Homo sapiens: one gene and its partners. The protein of the gene in region 2 interacts with the protein of the main gene of each other region in a pairwise test. Each region holds a gene or a part of one and is shown on either strand. Other genes may lie near its edges. The genes, in order: UNC119, CFTR, MCCC2, AHCYL1, TRAFD1, PTCD1 and YTHDF1.

Region 1 (3,948 bases), on a different chromosome or scaffold from region 2:
CCAGGACTACTTTCTCCATGGTGGTGGCTCATAGCCAGGGCTGCGTAAATGACCTCTAAGGGGGTTCTCTCTGCTTGCTAAGACTTCCTCCCATTTGGAGATCAACAAAGGATGAGAGCAAAGTTGGCCTCCTCCCACCTGCCATATCCCAGGCTCTGGGCTTGAGTCAGCAGAGCTTTGGTTAAGCTGCTTAAGGGAGCTGGGCTGGTGTAAGCTTCTTACTGAGAGGAGGGGGTTTGGAGGAGAGGAGGAATAGGGAAGGGGTTGTTCACCTGCCCCAGCCCCACCCATATCAGGGAAAGTCCCCTTAACATCAGCCTCACCTGATACATCTAGATGTCATGCCAGGGGCAGCTGTGGGGTGAGGGTAGGAGTATCCTCCAGAGAAGGACAGTGACTCTCCCAAGACAGAGCTGTGTGGCCCCCTTTACAGGTGGTTCTCAAAGGCAGGGTACCAGAGAAGTTGATACACTGAGTTGCAGTAGAAGAGACAGGTCAGACTGCAGGAAGTTGTTCCCATATGAGAAGAGAGGCTCCCACCAGGCTGGATACCTAATTCTCCCAAAGTCATCTAGCCAGCCTTGGCAGAGCGGAGGCCAGAATGAGGACCCTCAACTCCAGAGTGGGAGAGAGAGTGTTCAGGAGGTGGCCTTGTCCTCTACCCTTCTCTGCCCTGCCCTTCCCTGGCCCCCAGAGACCAGTAGGATGGCACTCCTTATCCCCTGTTAGATCCCCATGGCGGAGTTATGTCTCTTCCACACTGGGGGTGTACCCCAAGGGCAGGGACTGAGGTCCCTCTTTCCAGAGGGCAGTGATCCCAGGGATGAGAAGATGGTAGCTACTCTGGGGTCCCACACAAGCTGACCTGGCAGCAGGGGCTTTGCGGCCCCTTCCTTGCTCAGCTGCCTGTTTCCCCTAGACTACCTCTGCTCCCCTGAGGAGAATATCTACAAGATCGACTTTGTCAGGTTTAAGATTCGGGACATGGACTCAGGCACTGTCCTCTTTGAAATCAAGAAGCCCCCAGTCTCAGGTGAGTGGGCTGGGTGGGCCATTGATGGGGAGGCAGATAGGAGCTGCGGAGTGGGCTGCCCAGGGAATCCTTGGGCCACAGAGGAGTCCACAGAGCTGGGGCTTGGACCCCAGCATTCTCAGGAGTCTGCAGGCAGGGGGGCCCTTTCTTTTCCTTCCCATATGTTTCTGAGGCTGGACATCTTGCGAGGTCAGCCCTACCCCTTCGGTCCCTGCCAACCTGCCCTCTGCAGGGCTCTCTGGGAACTGCAGTCCTACGGGTCCCAGGCCTCAGCATCCTGTGGCCCGGGGAAGCACAGTGGCGATTGGGAACATGCAGACCTAGAACCCCTAGGTGGCACTATTTGGCCAATGGTCTGAGCCCTCAGTGTGCCCCGGAATTTCTTGGGGAGTTTAAAAAAAATCAGATAGATGGGGACCCAAGGGTAGAACCCTGGGTGGACAAGGGCCCAGCCTGAAGCCCACTGAGCCCCAGCTGGGGTACATTGCAGAACGGTTGCCCATCAACCGGCGGGACCTGGACCCCAATGCTGGGCGCTTTGTCCGCTACCAGTTCACGCCTGCCTTCCTCCGCCTGAGGCAGGTGGGAGCCACGTGAGTCGCTGGGCTATGGGTGGTGGTGGGGGTGAGGGAGAGGGTGTGAGTGGGCCCTTCTCAGCCTCTCGTAGGGGTGGCCTGTCCTGAGCCTGGCTGGCTAGTTGACTTCAAGGACAGACTTAGCCCTGCCTCCTTTTCTTGCTCAGGGTGGAGTTCACAGTGGGAGACAAGCCTGTCAACAACTTCCGCATGATCGAGAGGCACTACTTCCGCAACCAGCTACTCAAAAGCTTCGACTTCCACTTTGGCTTCTGCATCCCCAGCAGCAAGAACACCTGCGAGCACATTTACGACTTCCCCCCTCTCTCCGAGGAGCTGAGTGCGCGGGCAGGGTCTTCTGGGAGTGGGGAAGTGGGGGCGTCTAGAGACTGAGCTGCGGGAGGGAGAGGGACTTGTGGGTCTGATCCCATTTCTCCCCACCCTGGGGCTCTTCTGTGTCTGCCACCATTCCCATATCATCCGTAGAGAAAGAGGCTGGGGATATTTCAGGCTGTTTGGCTGTCCCTGTACCCCAGTCCTGAAGCCCCTGCAGTGGCGGGACTCAAGCTCCTGACCTTTGCCCGGCCTGGCTGGGCCTCTCTTGCAGTCAGCGAGATGATCCGCCACCCGTATGAGACCCAGTCTGACAGCTTCTACTTCGTGGATGACCGGCTGGTGATGCACAATAAAGCAGACTATTCCTACAGCGGGACACCCTGACCCCACGGCTGCCCTGACCCCAGGAGGCTCCAGTTCTGGGCTGGGAGCTGTGACCTCCCCAACGCTCACCCCTCAACCCCAAGTCCTCTGCTTGGGGAGTTCTCCAGGAGCTCCGGACCCTGAGTCAATGTTGGGAGGAAGGGTACCTGGTGTCCCCAGTCAAGCCCATGAAGCCCATGCGGCCTGCTACATGGGGTGGGGTCGTAGGGAGGCTGTTTGCCTCCACGTCTAGGAAGGCCTGTGAGAGGAGCAGTCAGGACTTCCGGACAACTTAGCTGGGCCCTACTTGGGCCCAAGTTTCAGAATAGTGTTCCCCTATCAAGGCTGTGACTAGATCAGGCAGGGATCCATTCCCTGTCCCCTGCCCACTACCTTCAGGCCATTTAGAGTTGTAAATTTACAAAGATCCACGGTGGGCTCCAGCTGCCAAGCCACCCAAGGGAGTCTGGGCCCTAGGCCTAGCCCCATCCCTCCCCATGAGGGGCCAAGACACTGCCTAAGGTGTGGGAGGGACTGGCTGAGATTGCAGCCCATGGTAGGAGCTGGACCAACTGTATATAGTTTTCAATAAACTTTTTCCTTTTCTGTTCTCTGGTGTGGCCAGCCTCTGTGTGTATGGGCAAAGAAGGGAGCAGGGATAGGCAGGAATGTGCTTAAGGCAGTAAAAATTTCTCCTACCTCCCACATTCCAGTGCACTCTCACCCCTTAGTCTTCCTGTCCCCTGATTCTCTGTACCCTGACACCATATAGAGTCAGCATTTAGAACATGATGGAGCTGGAGAGGGTCTTTCTTGTGATGAAGGAGACCCAGACCCTGAGAGGGGAAGCTTTGGCCCAAAGTCAGAGCCAACCCTGGCAGAACAGAGGCCGAAACAAAGGCCCTGAACTCCAGGGTGCAAGGGGAAGGTGTGGGGGGTGGGGGTTTGGCCTTGTCCTCCACGCTACCTTCCCTGAACCCCAGAGGCCACTAGGACCACTGGGTTGTGTTTTTAGCCCTCATGATAGACGGTGGCAGGGCTTTGGCTAAGGCCTGGAGCCATCTCCTTGCCCTCAGCTGCCTTGGGGAGCCCCCATGCCTGGGTAGCCCTGCACATAACACTGCCCTCAGCCTCCACCCCCACCCCAGACTCAGAGGAGGGGGCTGCTTAATGGAGGAAATTCAGGAACTGAGGTGGGCAGAGAGCACACCCTACAGTTTCAGGCCCTCCTTCAGATATGCCCAGAGCTGACGCACCCTCTGGGCTGAGGAGCTCTGGCCCTAGGAGGCCCAGAAGTGCTGGCATTCAGCTTGATTCTGTGAAGCCCTTGCTGGGGGAAGTGGGGTGGAGCTAGGATCTGCACTGAATTCTGGGAATTCTGAAATGAGTGAGACACAAGGAACACATACTCGTCCCTAGGGAAAAAAAAAGGACTGGGGACACGGAGAGCAAGAATCAGAGTCGTTCTGTGTGGAGGGTTCTGGGGAGGATTTTTAGAGGAGGTAGCACTGGAGCAGGTGCTTGTGATGGAAATTGATGGGGAAGAGTGCTTAGGCACAGGGAACAGCATAAACAAAGGCTCAGAGGCAAGATTTGTCAGGTGTTTGTTTGTTTGTTTACTTATTTATTTGAGATGGGGTC
Region 2 (4,672 bases):
CTTGCTAAGAGTCTTGTGTTTTCTTCCGAAGATAGTTTTTAGTTTCATACAAACTCTTCCCCCTTGTCAACACATGATGAAGCTTTTAAATACATGGGCCTAATCTGATCCTTATGATTTGCCTTTGTATCCCATTTATACCATAAGCATGTTTATAGCCCCAAATAAAGAAGTACTGGTGATTCTACATAATGAAAAATGTACTCATTTATTAAAGTTTCTTTGAAATATTTGTCCTGTTTATTTATGGATACTTAGAGTCTACCCCATGGTTGAAAAGCTGATTGTGGCTAACGCTATATCAACATTATGTGAAAAGAACTTAAAGAAATAAGTAATTTAAAGAGATAATAGAACAATAGACATATTATCAAGGTAAATACAGATCATTACTGTTCTGTGATATTATGTGTGGTATTTTCTTTCTTTTCTAGAACATACCAAATAATTAGAAGAACTCTAAAACAAGCATTTGCTGATTGCACAGTAATTCTCTGTGAACACAGGATAGAAGCAATGCTGGAATGCCAACAATTTTTGGTGAGTCTTTATAACTTTACTTAAGATCTCATTGCCCTTGTAATTCTTGATAACAATCTCACATGTGATAGTTCCTGCAAATTGCAACAATGTACAAGTTCTTTTCAAAAATATGTATCATACAGCCATCCAGCTTTACTCAAAATAGCTGCACAAGTTTTTCACTTTGATCTGAGCCATGTGGTGAGGTTGAAATATAGTAAATCTAAAATGGCAGCATATTACTAAGTTATGTTTATAAATAGGATATATATACTTTTTGAGCCCTTTATTTGGGGACCAAGTCATACAAAATACTCTACTGTTTAAGATTTTAAAAAAGGTCCCTGTGATTCTTTCAATAACTAAATGTCCCATGGATGTGGTCTGGGACAGGCCTAGTTGTCTTACAGTCTGATTTATGGTATTAATGACAAAGTTGAGAGGCACATTTCATTTTTCTAGCCATGATTTGGGTTCAGGTAGTACCTTTCTCAACCACCTTCTCACTGTTCTTAAAAAAACTGTCACATGGCCAGGCACAGTGGCTTACATCTGTAATCCCAATACTTTGGGAGGCTGAGGTGGGGGGATTACTTGAGGCCAGGAATTCAAGACCAGCCCAGGCAACATAGTGAGGCCCCATCTGTCTTTATTAAAACAAAACAAAACTGTCACAGCTTCTTTCAAGTGATGTTTACAAATTCCCTATGGTTTAGTCACAAGGAAGTTCTGAGGATGATGTATCACGTCATTTCTGTTCAGGCTTTTGAGCCTCCTGGAGGTAAATGGTTTCCTTACTGAAGGCTTGTTATTACCATGATTATCACTAAGCTTGAAGTAACAAATTAGGGGGGCAGACTCACAACCTCTTGCCCTGCCATGGACAAGTTCAAGAATCTAAGTAAAGTCCTCTATTGTCTGATCTTGGATTTGCTCAACCTGAACAAGCCAAGGAGGTGTATTAAACTCAGGCACATCCTGACCAATTTGGAATTCTTAAGCTTCAGATCACTGTGGAAGAGGCTCAACTCTTTATGGTGCTGTAGACTTACGCTCATTTTCTAGGTAATTTATAAGGGACCTAATATTTTGTTTTCAAAGCAACTTCAGTTCTACTAAACCTCCCTGAAGAATCTTCCAGCTGCTGAGTAGAAAATCACAACTAATTTCACAGATGGTAGAACCTCCTTAGAGCAAAAGGACACAGCAGTTAAATGTGACATACCTGATTGTTCAAAATGCAAGGCTCTGGACATTGCATTCTTTGACTTTTATTTTCCTTTGAGCCTGTGCCAGTTTCTGTCCCTGCTCTGGTCTGACCTGCCTTCTGTCCCAGATCTCACTAACAGCCATTTCCCTAGGTCATAGAAGAGAACAAAGTGCGGCAGTACGATTCCATCCAGAAACTGCTGAACGAGAGGAGCCTCTTCCGGCAAGCCATCAGCCCCTCCGACAGGGTGAAGCTCTTTCCCCACCGGAACTCAAGCAAGTGCAAGTCTAAGCCCCAGATTGCTGCTCTGAAAGAGGAGACAGAAGAAGAGGTGCAAGATACAAGGCTTTAGAGAGCAGCATAAATGTTGACATGGGACATTTGCTCATGGAATTGGAGCTCGTGGGACAGTCACCTCATGGAATTGGAGCTCGTGGAACAGTTACCTCTGCCTCAGAAAACAAGGATGAATTAAGTTTTTTTTTAAAAAAGAAACATTTGGTAAGGGGAATTGAGGACACTGATATGGGTCTTGATAAATGGCTTCCTGGCAATAGTCAAATTGTGTGAAAGGTACTTCAAATCCTTGAAGATTTACCACTTGTGTTTTGCAAGCCAGATTTTCCTGAAAACCCTTGCCATGTGCTAGTAATTGGAAAGGCAGCTCTAAATGTCAATCAGCCTAGTTGATCAGCTTATTGTCTAGTGAAACTCGTTAATTTGTAGTGTTGGAGAAGAACTGAAATCATACTTCTTAGGGTTATGATTAAGTAATGATAACTGGAAACTTCAGCGGTTTATATAAGCTTGTATTCCTTTTTCTCTCCTCTCCCCATGATGTTTAGAAACACAACTATATTGTTTGCTAAGCATTCCAACTATCTCATTTCCAAGCAAGTATTAGAATACCACAGGAACCACAAGACTGCACATCAAAATATGCCCCATTCAACATCTAGTGAGCAGTCAGGAAAGAGAACTTCCAGATCCTGGAAATCAGGGTTAGTATTGTCCAGGTCTACCAAAAATCTCAATATTTCAGATAATCACAATACATCCCTTACCTGGGAAAGGGCTGTTATAATCTTTCACAGGGGACAGGATGGTTCCCTTGATGAAGAAGTTGATATGCCTTTTCCCAACTCCAGAAAGTGACAAGCTCACAGACCTTTGAACTAGAGTTTAGCTGGAAAAGTATGTTAGTGCAAATTGTCACAGGACAGCCCTTCTTTCCACAGAAGCTCCAGGTAGAGGGTGTGTAAGTAGATAGGCCATGGGCACTGTGGGTAGACACACATGAAGTCCAAGCATTTAGATGTATAGGTTGATGGTGGTATGTTTTCAGGCTAGATGTATGTACTTCATGCTGTCTACACTAAGAGAGAATGAGAGACACACTGAAGAAGCACCAATCATGAATTAGTTTTATATGCTTCTGTTTTATAATTTTGTGAAGCAAAATTTTTTCTCTAGGAAATATTTATTTTAATAATGTTTCAAACATATATAACAATGCTGTATTTTAAAAGAATGATTATGAATTACATTTGTATAAAATAATTTTTATATTTGAAATATTGACTTTTTATGGCACTAGTATTTCTATGAAATATTATGTTAAAACTGGGACAGGGGAGAACCTAGGGTGATATTAACCAGGGGCCATGAATCACCTTTTGGTCTGGAGGGAAGCCTTGGGGCTGATGCAGTTGTTGCCCACAGCTGTATGATTCCCAGCCAGCACAGCCTCTTAGATGCAGTTCTGAAGAAGATGGTACCACCAGTCTGACTGTTTCCATCAAGGGTACACTGCCTTCTCAACTCCAAACTGACTCTTAAGAAGACTGCATTATATTTATTACTGTAAGAAAATATCACTTGTCAATAAAATCCATACATTTGTGTGAAACTTTGTTGTTTTCAGATGCGTTCACTTGTCATGTTTCATCAGTCTCTCACTCCAATTTCTAAGCTTCATGGAACATGAAACACGAATCTGTCTTTTAGATATAGCCTCTTTTGAGAATTCACATGAATTAGAACACACATTTTTAGTTATCTGTTTAAACTATGGTAAAATATACATAACATAAAATTTTCCATTTTAACCATTTTAAAGTTCAGTTCAGTGTCATTAGGTACATTCACATGGTTGTGCAAATATCACCATCATCCTTCCACAGAATTTTTTTCTTGCAAAACTGAAACTCTTTTTACCCGTTAGTCAATAATCCCGCATTTATCTTTCCTCTAATGCCTGGCAACCACCATTTTACTTTCTGTCTCTGATTTTGACTACTCGAAGGACCTAGGAGTGGGATCATACAGTATTTGTATTTTTGTGCTTATTTCATCTAGCATAATGTCTTCAAGCCTCATCCATGTTGCAACATGGGTCAATTTTCTTCCTTCTTAAGGTTGAATAATATTCATTATAGAGTAGTCCCCCCTTATCCTTGGGGAATATGTTCCAAGACCCCCAATGGATGCCTGAAATCACTGATAGCACTGAACCTGATTACTGTGTTTATTCCTATACATACACACATACATATGATAACATTTAATTTATAAATTAAGCACAGTAATAGATTAACAACAATAATCATAAAATAGAACAATTATAACAATATATTATGACACGAGCGATACAAATGTGGTCTCTCTCTTTCTCAAAATATCTCATTATACTGTGCCACAGGTAACTGAAACCACAGAGAGCAAAACCTTGGATAGGGGGACCACTCTATAAATATGTACCACATTTTTCCTCACCCATTCATCCATCACTGGCTACTTGGTTTGCTTCCACTTTTTGGATATAGTGAATAATGCTTCTATAAATATGGGTGTACAAATGTTTCTTCATGTCCCTGCTTTCATTACTTAGGATATGTTTGAAGTTATTTTTATTTTTAAATGGAGGCTTATAGAACACAA
Region 3 (4,031 bases), on a different chromosome or scaffold from region 2:
TCTACCTGGTCACAGGGCTTCCACCCTTGCTGCTCCATCTACTCACAACACAGCAGCCAGAAGCACTCTTTTAAGCTATGTCAGATCATAATCATCTCCTGTTCAAAACCCTACAATAGCTCCCCATTTCTCCCATGGTGAAAACCAAAACCTTTATGATAACCCACAAGGCCATACAGGATCTGACCCATCTCCTACTCCTCTCCCCTCACTCCCTCCACCACAACCACCCCAGCCTCCTGGCTGCCCCTTGAGCATACCAGCATTACCTGGCACACTCCCACCTCAGGGCCTTTGCACTGGCCATTCCCTCTGCCTGAAACACTCTTTCCCCAGAGAGTTACAAGGCTCTCTCTCTCTCTCTCCTCCTTTAAATCTTTGCTCAGACATCACCTTCTCAATGCGGCCTACCTTGGCACCACCTCTTAAAACTGCAACTTGCCCTATATCTTCCTCTCCTTTACCCTGGGCCACCTTTTCTTTTTCTCATGACATTTGTCACTTACTAACACACTACAGAATTTACAATCTTTTTTTTTTTTGAGACAGAGTCTCGCTCTGTCACCCAGGCTGGAGTGCAGTGGCACAATCTCGTCTCACTGCAACCTCTGCCTCTGGGGTTCGAGCGACTCTCCTGCCTCAGCCTCCCGAGTAGCTGGGACTACAAGCACATGCCACCATGCCCAGCTAATTTTTTGTATTTTTAGTAGAGACGGGTTTTCACCATGTTAGCCAGATGGTCTCAATCTCCTGACTTCATGATCCGCCCACCTCGGCCTCCCAAAGTGCTGGGATTACAGGAGTGAGCCACCACACCCAGCCAGAAGTTACAGTCTTTACTGTTGCTTTCTGTCTCCCTTTGCTATGATGTAAACTCTAGTAGAGCAAAGATCTGTGTCTGTTTTGGTCACTGATATATCACTAGTACCTGACCAATAGTAGGCTCTCAATAAACATGTCAACACATAGTGCTTGACACATAGTAGGCTCTCAATAAACACATGTTCCTGAATCTTACGATGAGAACTAGAATTCAAAATAACTGATTTACAAGACTGTCTAATAAAGTACTATGGAACAGAGAACACTCTGAGTCAGTACTTGGCTATGTACGCACCCTGGGTCTATGAGATTGTCAATTCTTTCTCTGGGCAATAGTTTTCCTCTTGATATGTGAAGTGCTCGGGCTTTCTCACCACCTCCTATGATAGAAATGTGATTAGATTAGATTAGATTGACACGATAAAAAGGTCTCAATGCCAGAAAAACATAATACTTAATCCAAAATATAGCACTTTTTAAAAGTTCAACATATCCTCTGAGAAAAGGCTAATAATCATTCACTCAACTTACAAGTTGCCAATTTTCTGAAGTAAATGTAAAAACTGGTATTAAAAAAAAATCAATCTATCCCTGATTTTAGAGTATATCCTAGAGTCTATGTTCTGAATTCACTAGTAGTTACATAAATTACAGAGTATTTTCTCTGCAGCTCACATATTGCAAATAATGCCTCATCTCCACCACATTTATTAAATACATGCTATGATAGATCTGGAAAATTCCTATCTTCATTTGTACCAGGTAAAAATAAAATTTTAGAAATTACTTCCATGATAAGTGCAGTAAATTTACCTAAAGATGACATTAGTGATCCGTAACTTTTTAGGCTTGCAACTGGGTGAGTTGAACACTTTAGCAATTTAAAAGTCCCCTTCCTTGACTCAGAGATTGTCTTCAGTGCTTCTCAACATTGCTCACATCATGACAGACAAAGAAAATTATAACTGAAGAGCCCACTGGAGTATTCTTGGGAATATCTATAACCCACTCTCGGCAAACCAAGGTAATGGAGCAAGAACAGAAGTATCAAATTGTACCTTTAATAATTAAAACATTAGTTTATTTTTATTGGTGTCCAAGAATTTCATCTTAATATAGTCTTTGTCTAATGAAATGTTCAGCTATTTCAGAAAGCTATTTCTTTGTTTATTTAGGCAAGAAAATAATCTCAAACGATCTTCCAAGTAGGACCTTTTTTTTTTTTTTTTTTGAGACAAGATCTTACTCTGTCACCCAGGCTGGAGTGCAGTGGTGCCAGCATGGCTCACTACAGCCTTGAACTCCTAAATTCAAGTGATCCTCTCACCTCAGGCTTCCCAGCAGCTGGGACTACAGGCATGTGCCACCACTCCAGCTAAATTTTTGTGATGAGGTCTCACTCTGTTGCCCAGGCTGGTTTCAAACACCTGGCTTCATGCAATTCTCCTGCCTTGACCTCCCAAAGTGACAGGTGGGTCATGCCTGTAATCCCAGCACTTTGGGAGGCTGAGGTGGGTGGATCACTTGAGGCCAGGAGTTTGAGACCAGCCTGGACAACATGGTGAAACCCCATCTCTACTAAAAATATGAAAAATTAGCTGGGTGTGGTGGTGCATGCCTGTAGTCCCAGCTATTCGGGAGGCTGAGGCGGGAGAATCGCTTGAACCCGGGGGGCCAAGGTTGTAGTGAACTGAGATCGCGCCACTACACCCCAGCCTGAGTGACAGAGCAAGACTCCGTCTCAGTAAAAAAAAAAAAAAAGAGAGAGACTTAAGACAACATCACTCTTTAGCAATTCTGTCTAGAGTGGGGCCTTACAATTTGGAGCAGCTGGTGAATTCTGGTTTTATTAGGAAGAACCAGAAAGAGGGTTATCCTTGATGCAGGCTCACAGAGCACATAATTAAGCTCCCCTGACATTTAATTCTTGGCAAAGCTGTGACAGCCAAGTTTGTCCTTTCCCCCTTCTCCCTACCTCCTTCCCCAGGGAGTCCGGCTCAGTCCTCTACCCTCCTGTGGCCACCAGCCTGCACCACGGTTCCTCAGCATCCACCATCCCCAGCAGGCACCTGATGCCACAGGACTCCTCAACCCTCCATTGAGTCAAACCCACCTCTTTTTTTTTTTTTTTTGAGACGGAATTTCGCTCTGTTACCCAGGCTAGAGTGCAATGGCACCATCTTGGCTCACTGCAACCTCCGCCTCCCAGGTTCAAACAATTCTCCTGCCTCAGCCTCCCGAGTAGGTGGGATTACAAGCATGCGCCACCACACCCAGCTAATTTTGTATTTTTAGTAGAGACAGGGTTTCACCATGTTGCTCAGTCTGGTCTCGAACTCCTGACTTCATGTGATCCGCCCACCTCGGCCTCCCAAAGTGCTGGGATTACAGGCGTGAGCCACTGTGCCTGGCCCCAAAACCCACCATCTTAATGTCTAAGGGGGACAGTGAGTTCACCAAATCAAACTCTCAAAATGGGCATAACAATTGAGTTATCACCCCTAACAAAACACTTTCATTTCAGCAAGAGTTTGAATTCTTTTTCTGGAGACAACACCTTGATCTAAAATGGCTTCAAAAGTATGAATTCCATAGCTGCGTACAGGGGCACAGGTACAGTCTCAGCTACTTGGGAGGCTGAGGCAAGAAGATCACTTGAGCTCCCGACTTCGAGTCCAGCCCGAGCAACAGAGTGAGGAGACCCTGTCTCTAAATAAACTAGTAAATAAGCAATTCTAGACCATACTTTCCAAATCCAGTCTTCTTCACTATTTTTATACTCCTGAGATCCAGTATTTAAACTACTCTAACCTAAATGTAAAATTTTACATTAAAAGTATTATATACAATTTTAAGTATTATATACTTGTTGATAAAAGTTATCTGAAACAGTCTATCAAATATGAAGAATGCTTTCCATCTGAGATTCAGCACTTAGGGAGGAAATATTAAATGCCTACTAAGAAATCACTGGCCAGGTGTGGTGGCTCATACCTGTAATCCCAGCACTTTGGGAGGCCAAGATGAGAGGATCGCTTGAGCCAGGGGTTCAGTCCAGCCTGGCAATAGAGCAAGAACCCATCTCTTAAAAAAAAAATTAATAAAAATTAAAAATAAATTATTTATTCATAAAATTTATGAATTTGAATCTTTACTTTTCCCCCCAAAAGTGGTAGTACTCTATGAAGAGAAAAACTGGCCAAGTAATA
Region 4 (4,031 bases), on a different chromosome or scaffold from region 2:
TCATTCCTCCTCCTGCCCACACCTACCTCCCTTTAAATATTTTAGGTTGCAGAAGCACAGCTGACCAGAAATTTGCTCTTAAAGATAAATCCTAAAGATAGAACTCAGTGCTTTATACTGAGTAATGGCTCAAGAAATTCGCCTTCAGCACAAGCTGTATGGTACACAGCTGATAGAATTTGCTGTTGTGGCTCCAGTTCACTGATGCTATGAACTACGGGCTAGAAACAGAGGGACTTAACAGGGCTTGAGACTAGCATTTCTCTAGACTCAGCATCCTTAGCTCCAAAGGTTCAAAAGAGAAATTGGTAACAACTAACCACTCAAGCAATTCCTCAGCATTAACACCAAAAATTCTCCTTAATTTTTCTTTTCTTTTTTTTTTTTTTTGGACAACAGAAATAAATCCTAGAGGACAAAATTAAACTCAATAGAGTGTAGTCTAGTTAAAAACTCGAAAAATGAGCAAGTCTGGTGGGAGTGGAGGAAGGGCTATACTATAAATCCAAGTGGGCCTCCTGATCTTAACAAGCCATGCTCATTATACACATCTCTGAACTGGACATACCACCTTTACGCAGGAAACAGGGCTTGGAACTTCTAAGGGAAATTAACATGCACCACCCACATCTAACCTACCTGCCGGGTAGGTACCATCCCTGCTTCTCTGAAGAAGTGAAAGAGCACTGATTTCAGCAGCTAAGAAATGGGCTCTTTTAAGGCGATTTAGACATTGCAGATTGTTCCACAGAGAAGGTACCTTAGCATTTCCTGTTAATAAGGTACCTAATTAAGACTAAAGTCCCCAGAAATGGTAAAGAAAGAATCACCTTTCTGGGCTGGGAGAGTAAAATCCTTCTTTAGTGACTAGAGTGAGGAACCCTGAACTTCTATTTCATCTAAAGAGCCATGAAGCAAGTTCCTGTGTGGTCTGCAGAACTTGGATAATGAGATGAAAAAACAAGAATGAAATTATAGGAAAAAAATCAAGAGGAAAGGAGTAAGAAGAAAATAAAAGTTATCTTAAAAAATATTTCTTTAGAGTGTGTGGTTCAGGTGGACTGGTCCTTGGTAGTATGGTCCATTAGTATCTGTAAAGAGAGAGAGTGATTGGTTAACACTTATGTCTTCCATATGAGAATTCCAAAAAACAATCGGAAACAGAGCACCTTCTCCAGGGCCCCTCCCCAGCCTGGGTGGGATCCCTGCAGTCATTCCCCAGGGCACCAGTCTCCCTTATTCTTCCACAGGGTCTCTGACAATGCCATTTCTGGTGTTACCGCCTGTTCCCAGGAATGAGTCAGTGTTTTTTCAACCCTGACTAAACATTACAATAATCTGGGGAGGTTTTACAAAATAATGTTTTGTAAATTTGGTCCCATCGCAGACCAAATATATCAGAATCTCTTAGGGTGAGGCCCAGGCTCCAAAATTTCAAAAAAACCCTAACTCCCTGATATCTCCCACAATTTCTCTATCTACCTTGTTAACTGGAACAGTTTTTTTGTTTGTTTGTTTGTTTTTAAGACAGAGTCTCACTCCATCACCCAGGCTGGAGTGCAGTGGCATGATCCCAGCTCACTGCAACCTCCGCCTCCCAGGTTCAAGTGATTCTCGTGCCTCAGCCACCTGAGTAACTGGGATGACAGGTGCCCGCCACCACACCCGGCTAAGAGATAGGGTTTCGCCATGTTGGCCAGGCTGGTCTTGAACTCCTGACCTCAAGTGATCCATCCGCCTAGGCCTCTCAAAGTGCTGGGATTACAGGCGTGAGCCACCGTGCCTGGCCTGGAACAGATTTCTTGTATTCTTCAAAATCAGGTACAACATTTGATCTTTATGTCAGAAGCAGGCTAGCCTGCTTGGTTTAATACTGGGAAAAAGAGCTTTTCACTTGCTTCTCCCCAGGTTACCTGTAATAATTAGGTTTGAATGGCCCATTTTTGTTGAGTCCCAGATATTTTGCTTGGTCATCTGTCAGCTCTGTAAGGTGGGCATCAAATGATGGCAGATGCAAGCTGGCAACGTATTCATCTAGGAAGAGCAAAGTGGCAGGAGAGCAGACTCCTTTTCAAAATGTCTCTCAAGTTATAACTTCCCATTTTCATTTGAAGCTTTTTTAAGAAAGCAGACAAGGGATGGAATAACTCTGAAAGAATCCACAACTTGAAATATTTGCTTAATTAAAAAAAAAACCTCAAAGCTGCCTTTCTGGGCAGGATGCTTCTCTCAGCACATGTACAGTGCGTTCAGAAAAGCCACTTACCAGGGTAACAAAAGGGAGTGGGCTTTTACCTCTCTATCCTTCTCTGGCAAAGCAGGGGGCTTCCCTGCAGTGGCCCACATGTCACATGCTACTCCTACCTTCCTGCAGCAACCTCCTTAACTAGATTATAGTCAAATTAGCAATCAAAGTGGACACCAGTAAGCTAGAAAGACCCTGTGTCAATAACACTCATTTAGGATAAGATCCATGGATCTTAGGATCATGAATTTCTAAGGTAGTCGGCACAGAATTTTTACTTTTCCATAGATAAGCTTCCCTTTTATAATTATACACTGAAAAAAAAGTCTGAAGTAAGCTATTGGAGGAGAGGAGAGCAAGAAGTATTTTAGCATTAAGAAGTCAGGGATTTGGGCTAGCCAAGGAGATATGGGAGATGGGTACACCGTGCAGAAAGGCAAAGGACTAGAGATGATGTATTATGTCACATGAACACAGCATGGGTTGCTTACAAGAGATTGGATGGTTTGCATATCCTCACAGAAAATGGACAATAAAACCTGTGTTTGTTTCTCTCATTTTGTTCCAAGGCTGTATGTACTCAGCTGCACTGGGAAGTTTACTGAACTTCATAAGGCTACTTAGAGTAAGAACATCTCCCTAAACCATTGTGTTAAGCACTGTTACTCATTAGCTGTGATTCTCACACAATTCTACAATGTATGTAGTATTATTTTCATTTTACCAATCAAGAAACTGAGGATCATAGAGATTAGAACTTGTCCTGAGGTCAAACAACCAGTAAGCACAGGAACAGGAATTGGAACTCTGACTCTAAATCCAATGCCTTTCATGGCAGTCATTTTACCAAACTATGCAGCTGTCTGCATAGATTTCCACTGTTTTTCACTCACCCATTTTCTTAGGAAGCAAGTACACATCCTGCTTGTATCGCCCCTCGGGTGCATTATAGAGTTCTATCAGTGCCAAAGCCTAAGGTGGGAAAAGAAGGCCAGAAAGCACAAAAATATTTCTTAGACAGGCACATAAAAATAAAACCAGGTTAAACAGCATTTGGGTAAGTACTACAGTGATCTACCACAGTCACAGTACCTAGGACTTTGCCTATACTAAAGGGCAGCACACATCCTAAGAGGATTTGTTGTTTTTGTTTAGTTCCTAACGAAAGAACAAATCAAATAAAACTAAGCTGGAACATTATATTCTCAACTAAAACAGCCAATTCAACGAATACTGACTTAGTGACTCTTTTCTATACTTAAGAATACCTGTTTCCACAATTTATTACATCAAAAAAGAATAGGATGATGAGAACATAGTACAGTACACCCTCACTGGAACTGATCTACGCCCAGTTCCACAAATTGCAGTGCAGTGTAAGCAGGCATTTTGCCACATACCTGTGTTGTGGCTGTGATGGACAGAACAAAGGTGGGAACTGTGGAGCAGCTCAAATTGAGTAGACGACCCTGGAAAGGTAAGAGAGAGCCCTGGGATGAGCTCTGTCTCAGATTCCAATGGCATACAAGTCAAGCCAAAGCGGGAGAGGACTTTACACCCCTCTAGACTCAGTTGGAAGAGGAAGAATTACAGTTCCAGATCAGGACTCTAGGCTTTTTCCTATTTTCTGCAAATCCATCTGAGTCTGAAAGGTTAAAGAATCAGCTGTGGTTAGGAAATAGTGTTACTTAGTAAAAAGTAGATTTTTTTAAAGTGGTTTTATTTTGGGGACCAATTTGTGAAATATCTCTCTCTCCAAAGATAAAATTCAGGGAAACATAGGCCT
Region 5 (4,031 bases), on a different chromosome or scaffold from region 2:
GTATACCAACAAAGTGAAAGAAGAAATGTTATATTGTGATTGTAAATCATGTATGTACAAATGCCATGAAAATTAAAGCCAGTAATTACTGCTTAGGGTGTAGAAAACCTGGGTTCCTTTTTCATAATATTGGCAATAATTTTTATTTTAATGGTAAATATGGAGACACTAAATGTCTAGCATTTACTTTACAAGGCTGTTCAGGATAACTTGTTGACATACTACATACACAAGGCCCCTAAAACTTTAGAATTAAAACAAAAAATATTAAGGACCACACCATCATAATATGAAGCAACAAGAATCAAAAGCAGCTGTCAAGTAAGACCACAAAGCATTTACTATTGCACATATTCACCTCTTAGGAAATGCTGAAATAAAAAAGATATTTGCAACAATTATATAAAACAGTTGCCTGCTGGGTTTTTTTCTTTTAAAATTTAACTGCCAACATATTCCTACCAAACATTCCAACCAGACCAAATACTAATATGCTTACTTCCTACCTTCGGAGAAAATGAAGATGTTTTAAGTGAGATAAATGAGCACACAATTCCGTATCCAGATAAAACTGCTAAAAGTCTCAAGGAAGGGCTAGCAAATTAGAGGTGAAATTTCATTTAGATAGAAATAGCTGAAAGGCAAACCAAAGCTTCCAGAAAAATTCCCAAGAACTTTCCAAACACTAAACACAAACAGCCAGAAATTAATTCTTTACAGGTTTAGTCAGCCTTCTATGCTAATCTGCTTTTTTCTTTAATTTCTTTGGCTTTGAATAGCATTGTTTTTCACTAGCTTTCCATTAACTCACCCTTTAACTCTCTTAGCATAGTTATTTATATTTTGTCCTAGGCTTGAGATTCCTCCTAATTGGAGTGGACTGATAAAATAGGTGTATCTTAACTAATGCTAAAAACCAATGTGTCTCTTTTCTTACAAAATCATGTTTTCTTTTGATTATTTGTTTCTGATTACTCTGTTTCAGTAGCTATACATATAAAACCCAAACAAAACTAAAATAGTTTATGAAATGGTAGAAAGTGATAGTGGCATAGCAGAAATACTCTACAATATGGCAAGACACCTACAATGAGATGAAATCTTAATTCCAAGCAGGTAAAGAATATTGTAACCAGCTGTTGCTCTAATTATATTCTAATTCTGCCAAAGTTAGGCTGAGAAGAAAGAAAAAGACAACGATGATGACAAAAATGTTATTTGGCTCAAATATTCCACCAATGAGTTAAACTATTTTCCTTATTCCACATCTCTTTCTACCACAGTTTGCTAAGGTAAACATAGCACATTGTGAAAGAAGTACCCAGTGAAGGAAAATAAAGTAATAAACATAGCAGACAGTTCTGCTTTGCTTTTTTTGTCAGCTTACAGTAACAGCACTTGTATAGCACCAAGATACCAAGATAAGTTCTTAGGAAAACCCCAACAGGAACCAGCTGATTATTAACTTTACAACCGGTTTCATTTCATCAGGAAAGAGATGCTCTTTCTTGTAATTCATGTGGGTTATAAACACCAAAATAGAAAGCTTAACTCAAGACTGTGCCAGTCTTCACTAACAGTTTTTAAATCAGGAAATGATAGTGATTAAGCTTGACTGTCCTCATTCCACTAACATTTCTTAGATTTAATGTCTTACCAGTTGTCACACAGTCGAGTTTCCTGGTCATCTAGAAATTCAGCCATCTTTAGCTCTTCCTGAAAACCACAAAGGAAGACATGAACTTTCTCTTTCATTTCTGCTTTAAAGATGACATGCAAAAAAACAAATAAAAAACTAGTATACAGAAACTGTCACCCAAACCTGCATGTTAAAGCATTTTATTCAATATCCAGTCCCTTGGGATTTTCTTATTTTAAAATTTTCAATTTAAAATAATTTTATTGGATAAGGGAGTTTTAAAAAATAAAAATAATAAAATAAAATACTTTTACTAGGCTGGGTACAGTGGCTCATGCCTGTAATCTCAGTACTTTGGGAGGCCGAGGCAGGCGGATCACTTGAGCCCAGGAGTTTAAGACCAACCTGGCCACAACATGGGGTAACGTCATGTCTACAAAAAATACAAAAAAAAAAAATTACCCAGGCATGGTGATGTGTGCCTGTAGTCCCAGCTACTCGAGAGGCCGAGGCAGGAGGAATGTGCAAGAGGAATGCTTAAGCCTAGGAGTTTAAGGCTGCAGAGAGCCATGATCATGCCACTGCACTCCAGCCTGGGTGACAGAGTGAGACCCTGTCTCAAAAATAATAATAATAATAACATCCTGGCCAGGCGCAGTGGCTCACACCTGTAATCCCAGGACTTAGGGAGGCCGAGGCAGGCAGATCACAAGGTCAGGAGATCGAGACCATCCTAGCCAACATGGTGAAACCCCCATCTCTACTAAAAATACAAAAATTAGCTGGGTGTGGTGGCGCATGCCTGTAATCCCAGCTACTCGCGAGGCTGAGGCAGGAGAATCGCTTCAACCAGGGAGTCAGAAGTTGCAGTGAGCCAAGATCGTGCCACTGCACTCCACCCTAGCGACAGAGTAAGACTCCGTCTCAAAAATAAATAAATAAATAAAAATAAAATAACATCCCTTACAGACTTCATCCAATTACCCTAAAAGCATCATAACAATAGTAAAATTATCAAATAGAGGAAATTAACACTAATACAATACTAGTAACTAATCTATAGAATTCATTCAAATTTCACCAACAAGTCAGGCACAGGGGCTCATGCCTGTACTCCCAGAACTTTGGGAGGCTGAGCTGAAGAGGATCGCTTGAACCCAGGAGTTTAAGATCAGCCTGGGCAACATGGTGAAACCCTTCTCTACAAACAATTTAAAAATTAGCCAGACGTGGTGGCACACACCTGTGGTCCCAACTACTCAGAAGGCTGAGATGGGAAGATCACTTAAGCCCAGGAGGTCAAAGCTGCAGTGAGCAGTGATTGTACCACTGCACCCTAGCCTGGGTGACAGAGTGAGATCCTGTCTCAAAAAAAAAAAAAAAAAAAAAAAAAATCACCATCCCACCCTTTTTCTGGTTCAGCATTCAATCTAGGATCACACACTGCATTTGGCTATTACTTGTAGTTAATCTCCTTTGATTTGGGAGAGTTCTTCAGTCTTTCCTTCTCTTTCATGACCTTGTTAAGCATACTGGCTTTTTTTTTTTTTTTTTTTTTAAACAGAGTCTCACTCTGCTGTCTAGGCTGGAGTGCAGTGGTGCGATCTCGGCTCACTGCGATCTCGGCTCACTGCAACCTCGACCTCAGCCTCCTGAGTAGCTGGGACCACAGGTGTGCACCACCATGCCCAGCTAATTTTTGTATTTTCAGTAGAGATGGAGTTTCACCATGTTGACCAGGCTGGTCTCAAACTCCTGACCTCATATGATCCACCAGCCAGCCTCAGCCTCCCAAAGTGCTGGGATTACAGGCATGAGTCACCGTGCCCAGCCAGCTAGTTATTTTATATAATATCCTTCAATTTGGGTTTGTCTGATATTTTCTCATGATTAAATTCAGGTTATATATTTTTGGCAAGAACACCATAGAAATCATGTTGTGCTCATCTCAGTGCCTTATATCAGAAGGTACATGATGTCAACAGTCTTATTTTACTATTGATGTAAACCATGATCACATAGTTGATATGGTGTCTGCCAAATTTCTTCACTATAAAGTTTCTCCTGCTTTTTAAACAAGATGTCAATGCAGAAAGCAAAGCACTGGCAACTTTACTACCATTGTTTAGTTTAGATTATTCCTTTCCATGATACAAAAATGGTCTTAAATCCTGCCCCCAGTAGGGTTCTTTAAAGGTTTTGGCATTATCAAGCGAGTTGCCACTTTTCAAAACATGTATTTAGTCATTTGTTCAACATGCTTAATTAAGACAATACTTTGAGGCTGGGTCCAGTGGCTCATGCCTGTAATCCCAGCACTTTGGGAGGCTGAGGTGGGCGGATCACTTGAGGTCAGGAGTTCAAGACCAGCCTGGCCAGCATGGCGAAACAC
Region 6 (4,031 bases), about 18 Mb from region 2:
CAGCGCCTTGGCCCCCTCCAGGTCTCCCAGCTTGCTCTTCTTTCTCACCAGCGTGTTAAAGAATGTCAGGTCGGCCTCTACCTGGTGCTCATCCAGGAGGGCCAGCAGCAAGGACTCTGCAGGACTCCCGGACTCCACCACCTCGGCCAGTAGCGTGAGGGTCCTGATGTCGGGCTGCTGCCTGTGCTCTGCCATCTTGCTCAGGAAGCCCTCCAGGCCCCCTATCAAGGCCAGCCGGTCAGCTGGGGTGGTCACCGTTCCAAAGGAGACCACTGTAGGGGGAACGGCCCCGGGGGTCAGGAGGTTGACTTCCAGCTCCACGGGAGGTGGCTTCAGGGCCACTGCGGTGAGGGCTGCTGTGTGGCTGGGCTCTGCCTTAGTATCCACCTCTGGTTGGGCCTTGCCGGGCACTCTGGCTTCCGGAGGCTCTGGAGGCCCAAGTGCCTGAGAAGGTTCCAGAAACAGCTGCCTCTCCAGGGCCTCCACATGCAGCATGGCTGACATGAGGTTGCCTGCCTTGGCCTGGGCTGTCCTCCTTGGCCGCTGCCTGCTCACTGGGGGCTGAAGCACAGTCGCCTCCTCCCTGGGCTTCAGAAGCAGCTCTGAGGCCACCTGGGGGTCCCCTAGGCCACAGTCCCGAGCTGCCACCAACAGCAGGTTGTAGCTGTCCCGGCTCGGCTGTAGCCCTAGACTCAGCATCAGCCGCCACACCTGCCACGGAAGAGACAAACGTCAGCTGGGTGCTCCCATTCAGCAGCTGGGCGCAGGGCTCACGCCTGGAATCCCAGCACCTTGGGAGTTTTAGATGGGAGGATCCCTTGAGATCAGGAGTTCGAGACAAGACCGGGCAACATAGCAAGACCCTGCCTCAAAAAAATACGCCAGGCGCGGTGGCTCACGCCTGTAATCCCAACACTTTAGGAAGCTAAGGCAGGCAGACTCCTTGAGATCAGGAGTTCGAGACCAGCCCGACCAACATGGTGAAACCCCATCTCTACTAAAAATACAAAAATTATTGGGTGTGGTATTGCATGCCCACAGTCCCAGCTACTCAGGAGGCTGAAGTGGGAGAATCACTTGAACCCAGAGATCGAGGTTGCAGTGAGCCGTGATCATGCCACAGCACTCCAGCCTGGGTGACAGAGCGAGAGTGTCTCAAAACAACTGTAAAACATTTAAAAAATTGGCCGGGCCTCTCCCTCTCCCTCTCCCTCTCCCCCTCCCTCTCCCCATGGTCTCCCTCTCCCTCTCCCTCTCCCTCTCCCCACGGTCTCCCTCTCCCTCTCCCCACGGTCTCCCTCTCCCTCTTTCCACAGTCTCCCTCTGATGCCCAGCTGAAGCTGGACTGTAACTGCTGCCATCTCGGCTCACTGCAACCTCCCTGCCTGATTCTCCTGCCTCAGCCTGCCGAGTACCTGCGATTGCAGGCGCGCGCCACCACGCCTGACTGGTTTTTGTATTATTTTGGTGGAGACGGGGTTTCGCTGTGTTGGCCAGGCTGGTCTCCAGCTCCTAACCGCGAGTGATCCACCAACCTCGGCCTCCCGAGGTGCCGGGATTGCAGACGGAGTCTCGTTCACTCAGTGCTCAATGGTGCCCAGGCTGGAGTGCAGTGGCGTGATCTCGGCTCGCTACAACCTCCACCTCCCAGCCGCCTGCCTTGGCCTCCCAAAGTGCCAAGACGGCCGCCACCCCGTCTGGGAAGTGAGGAGCGTCTCTGCCTGGCCGCCCATCGTCTGGGATGTGAGGAGCCCCTCTGCCTGGCTGCCCAGTCTGGAAAGTGAGGAGCGTCTCTGCCCAGCCGCCATCCCATCTAGGAAGTGAGGAGCGCCTCTTCCCGGCCGCCATCCCATCTAGGAAGTGAGGAGCATCTCTGCCCGGCCGCCCATCGTCTGAGATGTGGGGAGCGCCTCTGCCCCGCCGCCCCGTCTGGGATGTGAGGAGCGCCTCTGCCCGGCCGCGACCCCGTCTGGGAGGTGAGGAGCGTCTCTGCCCGGCCGCCCCGTCTGAGAAATGAGGAGACCCTCTGCCTGGCAACCGCCCCATCTGAGAAGTGAGGAGCCCCTCCGCCTGGCAGCCGCCCCGTCTGAGAAGTGAGGAGCCCCTCCGCCCGGGAGTCACCCTGTCTGGGAAGTGAGGAGCGTCTCCGCCCGGCAGCCACCCCGTCCGGGAGGGAGGTGGGGGTCAGCCCCCGCCAGGCCAGCCGCCCCGTCCGGGAGGGAGGTGGGGGTCAGCCCCCCACCCGGCCAGCCGCCCCGTCCGGGAGGGAGGTGGGGGTGGTCAGCCCCCTGCCCGGCCAGCCGCCCCGTCCGGGAGGTGAGGGGCACCTCTGCCCGGCTGCCCCTACTGGGAAGTGAGGAGCCCCTCTGCCCGGCTAGCACCCCGTCCAGGAGGGAGGTGGGGGGGTCAGCCCCCCGCCCGGCCAGCCGCCCCGTCCGGGAGGGAGGTGGGGGGTCAGCCCCCCGCCCGGCCAGCCGCCCCGTCCGGGAGGTGAGGGGCGCCTCTGCCCGGCCGCCCCTACTGGGAAGTGAGGAGCCCCTCTGCCAGGCCAGCCGCCCCGTCCGGGAGGGAGGTGGGGGGGGTCAGCCCCCCGCCCAGCCAGCCGCCCCGTCCGGGAGGTGAGCGGCGCCTCTGCCCGGCCGCCCCTGCTGGGAAGTGAGGAGCCCCTCTGCCCGGCCACCACCCCGTCTGGGAGGTGTGCCCAGCGGCTCATTGAGAACGGGCCATGATGACAGTGGCGGTTTTGTGGAATAGAAAGGGGGGAAAGGTGGGGAAAAGATTGAGAAATCGGATGGTTGCCGTGTCTGTGTAGAAAGAAGTAGACATGGGAGACTTTTCATTTTGTTCTGTACTAAGAAAAATTCTTCTGCCTTGGGATCCTGTTGATCTGTGACCTTACCCCCAACCCTGTGCTCTCTGAAACATGTGCTGTGTCCACTCAGGGTTAAATGGATTAAGGGTGGTGCAAGATGTGCTTTGTTAAACAGATGCTTGAAGGCAGCATGCTCCTTAAGAGTCATCACCACTCCCTAATCTCAAGTACCCAGGGGCACAAACACTGCAGAAGGCCGCAGGGTCGTCTGCCTAGGAAAACCAGAGACCTTTGTTCACTTGTTTATCTGCTGACCTTCCCTCCACTATTGTCCTATGACCCTGCCAAATCTCCCTCTGCAAGAAACACCCAAGAATGATCAATAAAAAAAAAAAAAAAATTGGCCGGGCGCGGTGGCTCACGCCTGTAATACTAGCATTTTGGGAGAGCAAGGCGCCGGATCACGAGGTAGGAGAGCGAGACCATCCAGGCTAACATGGTGAAACTCTGTCTCTACTAAAAATACAAAAACAAAATTAGCTGGGCATGGTGGTGGGCGCCTATAGTCCCAGCTACTCAGGAGGCTGAGACGGGAGAATGGTGTGAACCCAGGAGGTGGAGCTTGCAGTGAGCCGAGATCATGCCACTGTACTCCAGCCTGGGCGACAGAGCAAGACTCCATCTCAAAAAAAAAAAAAAAAAATTAAAAACATTAAAAAGAAAAAGAAAAAAAAAGCTCTCCAGCGGGGAGCTGTGGTTCACACCTGTAATCCCAGCACTTTGGGAGGCCCAGGCGGGCAGATCACATGAGGCCAGGAGTTCAAGACCAGCCTGGTCAACATGGTGAAACCCCGTCTCTACTAAAAATACAAAATTAGCTGGGCGTGGTGGCGGGCGCCTGTAATCTCAACTACTCGGGAGGCTGAGGCAGGAGTATCGCGTGAACCTGGGAGGCGGAGGTTGCAGTGAGCCAAGATCGCTCACTCCAGCCTGGGCAAGAGTGAGACTCCATCTCAAAATAAATGAATGAATGAATGAATGAATGACTCCTGGGTTGCACCTGCAGAAGTGCTAATGGGGGTGTGGGAGGGTTGAACAAGTCCCCAGGTGAGTGTGTGGCAGGCTTTCAAGGAAGGTGAGTTTAGAGGGGCTAAGCCGACTGCAAAGCAGGGTGGGAGGGGCGGGGGCCACCCTCATTCCATCTCCAAGGGCCTCCTCT
Region 7 (4,734 bases), on a different chromosome or scaffold from region 2:
GTATTTGGATTAAGGACCTGGATATGCAGATCCTACTCTTAAGAATTAACATTTCCTCCCTACCCCTCAAATGTAAAACTGGAAAAATTAAGAACTCTGTATTTTGCATTGCATTCTCTTAAAAATTCTGTTAAAAAAATCTCTTCACAGACTGGGTGTGGTGGCTCGTGCCTGTAATCCTAGTACTTTGGGAGGCCAAGGCGGGCGGATTGCCTGAGCTCAGGATTTTCTGGGCTGAGGCTAATATTGCATAACTTTATCACATACTTGTCAACTTCTGCAGATGTACACAATGTGCATTTCACTGCTTATAAATTTTACCTCAAAAGGAAAACAAACTAAACAGGTATTAAACTCTTATTGCATAAATAATAAGAGGCATTGGAGGATGAATGGAGAGAGACGGTGAGGAGCCAAGTCCAGAAAGGGGGTAGCGGTGCCCAGGTGCTGCACGCACCGCTGCGTCTGCACATTCATGTGATGAGGGGTGGGTGACGGTGCCATGTAGTTTATAGTCTTAAGGAAATTAACAGCTCCCTCTTCCAAAGCGAGGGAACGAGAATCCCACACCTTGAGAAACACAGGGCTTTCTACGGTGACTCCCCGAATGGCTCTGCAGCTTAAAAAGCTCCAACACATAAACTCATCAAGTAGGGTGAAGAATGAGGTGACACCAAGTTTGCTAAATAGTATTGTTTATTAAGGCTTGTATTCTCCTAGAGGAAAAACCCAATGTCGTCCAGGACTCCATTCAGGCAGTAACAGTTCAGAGGAAGTGACACGCTCTAAATACAAGTCTAATGATACAGCTGAAACGTTAACTCAGAGGGTCTTTTGGAGCAAGTAGTTTTCAGAAAGCGTCTGCTCTCTAGGACGGTAAGGATCCTCTACAAGGGCACGTGCAGATCCAGGCGCTGGAGCGTCAGGCATGGGCACCATTTTCATGCTTCAACTCAAACTCCAGGTGGTAGTGAGCTCAACGGTCCCTCATTCCACAAAACATGACAGCAAATTCATCTTCTAAAAAAAGTTTTGTTTTGTTTTTACCCATTCAACAGGAAAAAAAATTAGACACACACGATGAAATTTACAACCAGCAGCATCATCCATCACACTGTCTGTACTACCAGATCCTACACTTAAAGCTCAGCATTATTGGTATAAAAACTTAAGACGGCATTAGAATTCTTAAGAAAAGGTGTAAAATTTAAAAAGATGTGCAAACAACAAAGAATGCCCGACCCTGAACCAGACCTAAAGCACCTTCCAGTTCCTCCACACATCATGCCCCAACACCATCCAGCCCAATCGGACACCAGGACAGTGAGGGACGGGTGGCTGTTCAGTGGGCAACAGATCTGGAAGGAAAGATTTTCAAAAAAAAAAAAAAAGTGTCTGCCAAATTTGAAAAATTAAAAGTTATCTGTCTAGCAGAAAAATCAAATGGGTAAATTAGCACTTTAGACCGATAACAGATAATAAAATGACAAATCAGAATGAACAAAAAATCATTAACCTTTTGATTTCAGTATTTTCAAGAGATTTTATCAGAATACTCTAAATGACAAAATGACTCATGGTTTCTTATGTTTGCTAAAAAGCAATAAAGGGATGAGAAATATGAAGTCTCACAGAATATCAAATGACTGAATTTAAGAACACAATTTCTGCCAAAATAGATGCTTTGTTTTTAAGGATACTTACATTTCACATTAGATCAGTCTGATTGATAAGCTGACAAAAAAAATACTCCTTTATTAGTGACTTCTACAGGATTATAATACATAGAAAAAGTACAAATAAATGCAGATCCATCTGGGCAAAAATCAACGACAAGAAAGGCAAAGATGCAACACTCAACCCCCGCACGGGACGACACACTGGAGCTGACCAAGCACACGTGTTTTAAACTGTTTTCAAAGTCAAACGTTAGAACATGTAAGAAACTGGTTCGCCCTCATTGTTTGTTTCGACTCTGCCGTTCCTGTAAAAAGAAAAAACAAAAGTTGAACGCAGAGTAACCACACCAATGAATCCCTCCCAAAAGTGAGATCCGAGGCTGCCCCTTAGCAGCACCTGCAAATCTGGAGGCGGGACCCTGAATGGTACCCAAGCCACACCAGCACACAACTCTGAGCTGCACTGGGGCCTGCTCTGTGGGGGACTGGCCACACTGGGCATGGCATTCTCCCCACCCCCTCTACCAGGAGAAAAGCATCAACCACAACGGTCACATGGGCCACCTGTCTGCTGGGAAGCCTCACTTCCCACAGCTGTCTTTCCCTCATGTGCCACTATCATTCCACATGGAAAGACACTTAGCAATGTGAAATTCTCTGCACTCAGAGGGAGGAGCTGGCACGCACCAGGCTCTCAAGGAGGCCAGGGAGACAGAAGCTGTTCTTCTGTATTTTATCTCATTTAAACTTCTCAGTGGCACAAAGGACACCAAAATCCTTCCAACTGGCTAACAAGGTGCTGTGTCATGTGGCTAATGAAGGGCAGGAGGACCGGTGTGGGCCTGTCCAGTTCAGGCCCTTCCCACTCCCCAGCTCACTCCCACGCCAAGGGGAAGAGCATGCCCCTCCCCACTCCCCCACGGCTAGACTGGCTCAAGGCAAAGCTCCTCTGACCAGGTTTGCTGCCCACTCCCGTAAGAGAATCATCTTTTCCAGAGTGTATGTGACACACAAGCTTGAGACTTACACCCGAATCTTTTCCCACACTGGCCTCCCTGAGTAGCAGGGTCTAGAAGCCCCTTCAGTCTCCTTACAAGGCAGCATACAAAGATGAAAATGTGCGATCTAAGGAGCACACGCTGCACCACTCTGCTAGAGAGGTGTCCCAGGCCGAGTGTGGTGGCGCACCCTGTAATCCCAGCTATTCGGGAGGCTGAGGCGAGAGGATCGCTTGAGCCCATGAGTTTTCGGCTGCAGTGAGCTATTATCTGCCCTGCACTCCAGCCTGGGCAACAGAGAGAGACCCTATCTCGAAATAAAAACAAAACAAAAAGATGCATCCCAGGCACATCCACCCTCATCTGGCCATCTATCAAGATGCAAACTAATAAAGAAAACCAGCGGGCAGGACACCCAAACATTTAACCTGAAACCTCCTCTTTTGCTAAAAATGGACTGAATGTGTCTTCCGGTTAATAATAAACTTTGCTGGGCACTGGAATAAACACCAGCCTCCTCAACTGTGGCTGCTCTCAGAAGCAGATGTGGTGTTCCCTGTCCCGAGAAGGCTCCAGAGTATTTGGATTAAGGACCTGGATAGGCAGGTCCTACTCTTAAGAATTAACATTTCCTCCCTACCCTCAAATGTAAAACTGGAAAAATTAAGAACTCTGTATTTTACATTCTCTTAAACATTCTCCGTTAAAAAAAATCTCTTCCCAGGCTGGGTGTGGTGGCTCATGCCTGTAATCCTAGCACTTTGGGAGGCCAAGGTGGGTGGATTGCCTGAGCTCAGGAATTTGAGACCAGCTTGGTCAACATGGTAAAACCCCACCTCTACTAAAAATACAAAAAAAAAAAAAAAATTTGGCAGGGCATGGTGACCGGCGCCTGTAATCCCAGCCACTCTGAAGGCTGAGGCACAAGAATTACTTGAACCTAGGACGCAGAGGTTGCAGTGAGCTGAGATTGTGCCACTTCACTCCAGCCTGGGGGAGACAGCGAAACTCTCAATCAATCAATCTCTTAACAAAAGAGGTACTGCTGTTCCTAAAAAGCAAATACCAATCTCTTGAGTTCAAATAGCTGATGTTAAAGCCACTCACAGGTAAACTCCCCAGATCCCCATCTCCCTTCAGCCCTTATAAACAGCTACAAAGTTTACTATGTGCTCTTTAAAAAATACTATTCCTCATAAAATTTCTCAAAAAAAAAAAAAATGACGAAGCACAGCTCGTTCTTTTGAGGAATGCTCAACAAGCATCCAGGAAATGCTTATGGCCTAAGATTCTCTATGCTCTTTCTTAATTTCCAAAGTCAAAGAGCCACTCTGCTGAGCCGGCCTGGAGGTCGAAGTGGGGTCAGGTCAGGGGCACCTGCCGCCAGGGCAAGGACAGTCAGTCTGAGGAACTAAGCAATGCTCACAGTGTGGGACGCTCACCACTTTCACTGTTTTAAGCTAAGAAGTGGCCGTTTCTAGGTTTTTTTAAAACCAAAAAATGTATCAACCCAGGACTTGGTCTGACTCTGCTGCCATAAAAGCTACTGCCATCCTAAGAAATCAGTATGTTTCTAAATTTATAGCTGGACAGCAATCTTGCAAAATGCTAACTCTACTTCACTTTCTCAACACTCAACTTGTTTATGACCTTTACAGCAATGGGGCCAAACTCTAAATGATAAAGAAAAGGTGGGTCTGTTCTTCGAAGTCCTGAGAGAACCTTGAGAAAACCGCCCGGGGGCTCTACCAGCACAGGCGCACAACCCTCTCCTCGGCACACTACTTTGTTCTTAAAACTGCACTGACTCGGCCGGGCGCAGTGGCTCACGCCTGTAATCCCAGCACTTTGGGAGGCCAAAGCGGGCGGATCACGAGGTCAGGAGATCGAGACCATCCTGGCTAACACGGTGAAACCCCATCTCTACTAAAAGCACAAAAAATTCGCTGGGCGTGGTGGCAAGGGCCTGTAGTCCCAGCTACCCGGGAGGCTGAGGCAGGAGAATTGTGTGAACCCAGGAGGCAGAGCTTGCAGTGAGCCGAGATCACACCACTACA

What was found.
Region 1: the proteins of CFTR (region 2) and UNC119 interact in binary tests that used the Homo sapiens proteins (3 or more experiments, as listed by UniProt).
Region 3: the proteins of CFTR (region 2) and MCCC2 interact in binary tests that used the Homo sapiens proteins (3 or more experiments, as listed by UniProt).
Region 4: the proteins of CFTR (region 2) and AHCYL1 interact in binary tests that used the Homo sapiens proteins (3 or more experiments, as listed by UniProt).
Region 5: the proteins of CFTR (region 2) and TRAFD1 interact in binary tests that used the Homo sapiens proteins (3 or more experiments, as listed by UniProt).
Region 6: the proteins of CFTR (region 2) and PTCD1 interact in binary tests that used the Homo sapiens proteins (3 or more experiments, as listed by UniProt).
Region 7: the proteins of CFTR (region 2) and YTHDF1 interact in binary tests that used the Homo sapiens proteins (3 or more experiments, as listed by UniProt).

The regions. Positions count from the first base shown.
Region 1 is NC_000017.11:28,545,677-28,549,624, reverse strand, and holds the end of UNC119 (protein unc-119 homolog A), read left to right. Parts: intron 1-919; coding exon 920-1,033; intron 1,034-1,523; coding exon 1,524-1,626; intron 1,627-1,775; coding exon 1,776-1,948; coding exon of another isoform or gene 1,949-2,001; exon of another isoform or gene 2,002-2,215; coding exon 2,216-2,328; 3' UTR 2,329-2,917; downstream 2,918-3,948. UniProt on the Homo sapiens protein: Involved in synaptic functions in photoreceptor cells, the signal transduction in immune cells as a Src family kinase activator, endosome recycling, the uptake of bacteria and endocytosis, protein trafficking in sensory neurons and as lipid-binding chaperone with specificity for a diverse subset of myristoylated proteins.
Region 2 is NC_000007.14:117,665,025-117,669,696, forward strand, and holds the end of CFTR (cystic fibrosis transmembrane conductance regulator), read left to right. Parts: intron 1-434; coding exon 435-540; intron 541-1,883; coding exon 1,884-2,084; 3' UTR 2,085-3,641; downstream 3,642-4,672. UniProt on the Homo sapiens protein: Epithelial ion channel that plays an important role in the regulation of epithelial ion and water transport and fluid homeostasis. Mediates the transport of chloride ions across the cell membrane.
Region 3 is NC_000005.10:71,593,451-71,597,481, reverse strand, and holds part of MCCC2 (methylcrotonoyl-CoA carboxylase beta chain, mitochondrial isoform 1 precursor), read right to left. Parts: intron 1,203-4,031; coding exon 1,118-1,202; intron 1-1,117. UniProt on the Homo sapiens protein: Carboxyltransferase subunit of the 3-methylcrotonyl-CoA carboxylase, an enzyme that catalyzes the conversion of 3-methylcrotonyl-CoA to 3-methylglutaconyl-CoA, a critical step for leucine and isovaleric acid catabolism.
Region 4 is NC_000001.11:110,018,734-110,022,764, reverse strand, and holds part of AHCYL1 (S-adenosylhomocysteine hydrolase-like protein 1), read right to left. Parts: intron 3,891-4,031; coding exon of another isoform or gene 3,846-3,890; exon of another isoform or gene 3,715-3,845; coding exon 3,646-3,714; intron 3,218-3,645; coding exon 3,139-3,217; intron 2,035-3,138; coding exon 1,914-2,034; intron 1,092-1,913; coding exon 1,085-1,091; coding exon of another isoform or gene 1,039-1,084; 3' UTR 1-1,038. UniProt on the Homo sapiens protein: Multifaceted cellular regulator which coordinates several essential cellular functions including regulation of epithelial HCO3(-) and fluid secretion, mRNA processing and DNA replication.
Region 5 is NC_000012.12:112,128,196-112,132,226, reverse strand, and holds part of TRAFD1 (TRAF-type zinc finger domain-containing protein 1), read right to left. Parts: intron 1,717-4,031; 5' UTR 1,705-1,716; coding exon 1,658-1,704; intron 1-1,657. UniProt on the Homo sapiens protein: Negative feedback regulator that controls excessive innate immune responses. Regulates both Toll-like receptor 4 (TLR4) and DDX58/RIG1-like helicases (RLH) pathways.
Region 6 is NC_000007.14:99,424,906-99,428,936, forward strand, and holds part of PTCD1 (pentatricopeptide repeat-containing protein 1, mitochondrial), read right to left. Parts: intron 712-4,031; coding exon 1-711. Other genes in the region: ATP5MF-PTCD1 (ATP5J2-PTCD1 fusion protein), read right to left, coding at 1-711. UniProt on the Homo sapiens protein: Mitochondrial protein implicated in negative regulation of leucine tRNA levels, as well as negative regulation of mitochondria-encoded proteins and COX activity. Also affects the 3'-processing of mitochondrial tRNAs.
Region 7 is NC_000020.11:63,194,751-63,199,484, forward strand, and holds the end of YTHDF1 (YTH domain-containing family protein 1), read right to left. Parts: intron 1,985-4,734; coding exon 1,958-1,984; 3' UTR 679-1,957; downstream 1-678.